Linked DNA regions of Homo sapiens: region 2 is reported to be linked to region 1. Evidence: microRNA targets listed by miRTarBase, many of them from high-throughput screens and not tested one by one. Region 1 holds a microRNA gene; the other region holds the end of a gene's coding sequence.

Region 1 (3,000 bases):
ACACTGTAGGTTTTCTCCCCTATGATCCTTACTTCCTTCTGGGCCCTCACTGGCAGAAGCTTTATCATCCACATTTTATCTAACAATCTATTCAAGGTAATCTAGATTTTTTTTTTAAATCATGCTACTCAAAATTATTCCATACTCTGCCAAGTACCCAATTCTAAAGTCACTTTCACATTCTTAGGTATGTATTACCAGGACCCCATTTCCAGTTACTAATCAATATAGTGAACCACACTGAATACTAAATTAGAAAAAATCATTTATGTTGAGCAATAATAATGCTGAAAATGTTGGGGTCTTTTCTGCTTCAAACTTTTGAGTAATTATGTCATTGTCTAGTAAGAAAATTTTGCTCATTCTGTGTCAATCACCTTATAACATAGTTATATCATCTTATATTTTTGAATACTAGGGAAGCAATAACATGAATAAGTATTATTGTGTGTTGCATTTTGTCCTCCCAAGATATGTTCAAGTCCTAACCCCTAGCACCTATGAAGATGACCTTATTTGGAAATGGGGCCTTTGCAGATGTAATCAAGTTAAGATGAGGAGATAATGGTTTGCAGGACCCTACATTAAATGACTGGTGTCCTTATAAGGAGAAAGAGATACAAGGACACACAGGAAAGATGGCCATATGACGACGTAGGCAGAAATTAAAGTGATTCAGCTACAAACCAATGAACAGCAAGAACTACTGGCAACCAATAGAAGCCAGGAAGAAGCAAGGAAGGAGTCTTCCCTACAGCCTGAATTCAGAGGGAGCATGGCCCTGCTGATATCTTGATTTCAGACTTACAGCCTCCTCAACTATTGAGAATAAATTTCAGTTGTTTTAAGCCAGCCCGTTTGTGGTATTTTGGTACAGCAGCTCAGGAAACTATAATAGAGTCTAGAGCTACTATACCAAAATAACCACACACACACACACACACACACACACACACACACACGACATGAAATCAAAGAGAATAATTCCCCTACTTCATTCAACAAACACAAAGTTTTGTTTTTACAACTCTCCATGCACCATACTTCCTACTGATTGATACAAGAGCATGGAAAGCACAGACATTGACAGCTTCGTAAATGAACACGGGAATAGGTCATGTTTTTAAACCACCAAAAATGGAAATGGCACCTGAAACAGGAATAAAAGGTAAACAAAAAGACATATATTGGTGGCAGTATACACTGCTATTTTACTTCTCCTATTTCCAATAATATCTCTAATAAATATCACACTTAAAGCAGCATAGAAAAGAGAATGCTAGTGTTACAACCATGAAATCAAGATAAATGCAACAGTGTAGTAAGTCTGGCAAGTGTGCTTGATCTTCAACATTTCTTCCATACCTACTGAAGGTCATGAAGCTCTGTACAGACTGACCATTGAAAGAGTTATATAATGTTCAAAAAATATAAAGCAAAGGGTATTTCTACAAAGTTAATCCAAGTACATTAAAAAACAAACATTAAAAAGAATGAAGGGCTTAGCTATGGAATGATATACTCGATTAGGAAATCTTATCTTACCTGTTGAATTACTTCTGGATATAGCATGGGTAGTCTTTCAGCAATAAGAGCCAGTCCACCCATTCCTGCAAAAACTTGTAATGGTGACTGAATTGGACAGGTTTCAAGCAAAGATTCATCCAGTATCCCATCCATGCATTCATCACCTGGAGTGAGAGCCTCATCTTCTGGACAGCTAGCAAGTAAGTCTCCATGATCTAGACAATAAATTACAAATAACTGAATAGGTAAGAAAGGGTATATTTTTATAATATTCTTTCATTTACAAAAGCAGGTATTACTGCTTTCTTGCTACTCAAAAAAGAGCACAAAACATCATTTATTTAGATATAGCTGTATTATGGCTAGACGGTACAATGACCTTTAAATGACTTCTGATACTGCCTTCTTTAGTCTTGTTATTGGAAGAATGGTTCATGGACTAGTAGTATTGGCATCACCTGCAAGCTAGTTTGAAATGAAGAATCTCCATTTTAACAGTATGATGCTGGTCATTTGTAAGCATACTGAAGTTTGAGAAGCACTGTCCTTTAGGGCATACTTTAACGTATATCCTATGTTAAAATAAATAAGTTCTCAAAGTTCTCATAGCAAATAATATGCTCTAAAGTATCCTATTAAGAAAAATTAATGACAAAGACTTCCCTTACTTAAAACAAAAAATTATACCATATTAGTTTAACTCTGAATTACTCACCAAAGAAAACCAAAAGGTCACGTAACCAGACCCTTTAAACATTAAAACAAAAGAGAGAAATAATCGTGCTGAAAAACTGGGCAAAGACAATGTACCAAAATTTGCTGAAGAATACAAAAGACCAATAACTAAAGACTGAATTTTAGTCATGAGAAAGATGGAAAGTTTAAGTAAGTTCATATCATACTCACACTATGAAAACTACTTATATAGCATTTATAGGAGTAAAAATTGGAAACAACCACAATGTTTCGATGATTGGGGAACAAATAAATTTTCTTACATTTTTATGAAAAAATAGCCAATTCAAAAATGGATATTCAAAAATATTTAATGGAATATAAGGGCCGGGTGCGGTGGCTCATGCCTATATCCCAGCACTTTGTGAGGCCGAAGCGGGCAGATAAGTTGAGGTCAGGAGTTACAGAGTAGCTTGGCCAACATGGTGAAACCTTCTCTCTACAAAAAATACAAAAATTAGCCAGGCATGGTGGTGGGTGCCAGTAATCCCAGCTTCTCGGGAGGCTGAGGCAGGAAAATCACTTGAACTCGGGAGGCGGAGGTTGCAGTGAACTAAGATCGTGCCTCTGCACTCCGACCTGGGAGACAGAAAAAGACTCTGTCTCAAAAAAAATTAATGGAATATATAAGTAAAAAACAAAAATATGTGATCCCAATTATATGAGAAAACATGTTTATATGCAAGAAATGCCACTCAATATAAATTATAACAAAGTTGTAAGTTGAGTTTCTCACTT
Region 2 (3,000 bases), not on the chromosome of region 1:
GAATGTGGCAAAGCCTTTGGACGGTCCAGGGTCCTGAATGAACATAAAAAAATTCATACTGGAGAGAAACCCTACAAATGTGAAGAATGTGGCAAAGCCTTTAGACGGTCCACAGATCGGAGTCAACATAAGAAAATTCATAGTGCAGATAAACCCTACAAATGTAAAGAATGTGACAAAGCCTTTAAACAATTTTCGCTCCTGAGTCAACATAAGAAAATTCATACTGTAGATAAACCCTACAAATGTAAAGATTGTGACAAAGCCTTTAAACGGTTCTCACACCTGAATAAACATAAGAAAATTCATACTTGAGAGAAATCCTACAAATGTAAAGAATGTGGCAAACCTTTGGATGATCCACAAACCTTAATGAACATGAGAAAATTTATACTGTAGAGAAACCCTGGAAATGTGAAGAACGTGGCAAAGTTCTTTACCTCATTCTCAAACCTTGATAAACATAAGAGAATTCATACCGGAGAGAAACTGTACAAATGTGAAGAATATGGCAAAGCCTGTGAATGGTCCACAAACCTGAATGAGCAGAAGAAAATTATTACTGGAGATAAACCCTGCAAATGTAAAGAGTGTAACAAAACCTTTAAACAGCCCTCACCGGTGAATAAACATAAGAAAAATCATGCTGGAGGGAAGCCCTACACATGTGGCAGAATGTGGCAAAGCATTTAATTGGTCCTCAATGCTTAATAAATATAATTCATGCTGGAGAGAAACTTCACATGTGAACCGTGTGGCAAAGCCTTTAAATGGTCCTCAACCCTTAATGAACGTAAGTGAATTCATGCTGGAGCAAAATGCTTCACATGCGAAGAATGTGGCACAGTCTTTACCACATCCTCAAACTTTGTTAAACATAAGAGAATTTATACCAGAGAGAAACCCTACACATGTAAAGAATGTGGCAAAGCCTTCAATAGGTTCTCAACCCTTACTGTGCACAAGATAATTCATTCTGGGGAAAAAAATGCTACAAATGTGAAAAACGTGGCAGAGCCTTCAGACCATCCACAAACCTTTATGAAAATTCATATTTGAGAGTAGAAGATTCATTCCACAAACTTACATTGAGAAGATATGAAAGATGAATATAAGAATTCATCCTAGATATAAAACCATAGAAATGTAAAAGATGTGACAAAACCTTTAAGCCATACTCCAGGCTTCTTAAACATAATGAGAACTCATACTGGAGGAAAGTCTTACAAATGTGAAGAATGTGGCAGTCTTTAAATCTTCCTCAGTCTTTTCTAATCATAAGATAATTCACACTGAAGAGAAACTGCAAACGTGGAAAGTGTGACAAAGCTTGCAACCACACTCAATCTATTCTAAATATAAGAGAAATGATATTGGTGAGAAGCCACAAAAATATGAAAAATGTGGCAAAGCCTTCAAATGCTTGTCACATCTTACTGTATATATATAATTCCTACTGAAGAAATCCCCTGGAAATGCAAAAAATGTGGCAGGATTTTTACCAATGCTCATCTTTTTGCACATGATATCCTTTATATTCGAGAAAAGTTATAGAAATATAAAAAATATAGAAAAGTCATATCTCCTCACATTTTACTAACTAGCAATGTTCATACTTAATAAAAACATTATAAATGTAATTTCTGTTGAAAGACTTCAGAAAATATAGGCCTTTAAAGTGAAGAAGAGTATTCTTAAGACAAACAATACAAATATAAAGAGGGTTGTAGTACCTGTACTTCTCTCATGGATTTTGTTGTACACATTTTATAATAGGGGAAAACACTGAAGGAGACTTTCTTCAACATCAGAAAATTTATATTGGAGAGAAATCCTACAAATGTAATAAATGTGGAAAAACATTTGTTCAAAAACTGCAGCTTAAACAGTTTACACTAGAAAATATTTTGTAGATGCAGTAAATGTGAAGAAATATTTAGTCTAAAAAGAAGAGTATGTAAACATCAGAGGATTTACAGTAGAAAGAACTAAGGAACTAACACTTTAGACACTGCAGTAAATCAGAGTATTAAGTATTAAAAAAATCCAAAGTTGAACCTATTAGAGAATTTCTTTGTATATAAGTTGAAAAGAAGATTTTTGAAGAGATACTACATTTAAAGTATATTTTTTCACTTGAAAAAAGTATAGATTTTTTGAAAAGCATATAATAGTTAATTCAACTCAAATTATTTCATACTGTTTCAACATTCCTGTTTATGTGAAAGCATGTGATGAATTGTTGCTGCATCAGAGATAAGAGAGATTCTTTTTCATTAGGTGGGCATTATTTGTGAATTTTTACAAGAAAGAGTGAGGACAGAAATGAAAGATCCATGATGAAAATCTAGCAGAGAGGCTTTTTTGTAGTTGACAATATTGAGTGATGCATGAGGTAGGTGTTCAGAGTAATATTCTTCTGCATTATAGTGAGAGAAAATCTGTTTTAGTAGTAAATTGTTTTACCAATTATACATTTATGTAATAAGATACAGTAAATTTTAAAATTATTTTAAGATTATGTGGGAACATAATTTTTTAACTAAACAAAATTTTTAACGTGTTGAAATAATTGTTGCTTGAATGAAGTGTCATTATGCCACCAACTTAAACCTATCCCACCTTACTCAATGGTGTAGGTAAAAGATGGTAACAATGGTAACATAGTTGAATGACATTTTTAGTATTCTCTTTTTCCAGTGGCTTTAAATAGCAAATACATTGAAGAATATCATTCCCATATGTTGTATTTTCACTCTTGTTATTTTCCGAAATTTTTGTGGGTACATAGTATGCATATTTATCTATGGCATATATGGGTTATTTTCTTATACAGGCATACAACATGTAATATACCAGAGTAAATGAGTTATTCATCACCTCAAGCATTCATCCTTTGTATTACACACAATCCAATTATACACTTTAATTATTTCTAAATGTACAATTATGATTGTAGTATTATATCAGTATAATTATAATTCATACATTTATGCATCC

The links. Region 1 holds the annotated microRNA hsa-miR-558 (UGAGCUGCUGUACCAAAAU, at 866-884, opposite strand). A microRNA usually pairs through its seed, bases 2 to 8, with sites in the 3' UTR of a target mRNA and lowers its output. Matches are read on the target gene's strand: a 7mer-m8 pairs with bases 2 to 8, a 7mer-A1 pairs with bases 2 to 7 and ends in A, and an 8mer does both.
Region 2: the mRNA of ZNF141 is a reported target of hsa-miR-558. The part of its 3' UTR that is shown has no 7-base or 8-base seed match.

The regions. Positions count from the first base shown.
Region 1 is chr2:32,530,097-32,533,096 of GRCh38, reverse strand. It overlaps MIR558 (microRNA 558), which reads right to left and starts at 944; the gene lies at 851-944. BIRC6 (baculoviral IAP repeat containing 6) reads right to left here. Exons shown (of 74, transcript NM_016252.4): 61 at 1,546-1,742.
Region 2 is chr4:373,548-376,547 of GRCh38, forward strand. It overlaps ZNF141 (zinc finger protein 141), which reads left to right. Exons shown (of 4, transcript NM_003441.4): 4 at 1-3,000. The coding sequence ends at 315. Among named protein-coding and RNA genes, the nearest start is that of MIR571, 25 kb to the left of the region's middle.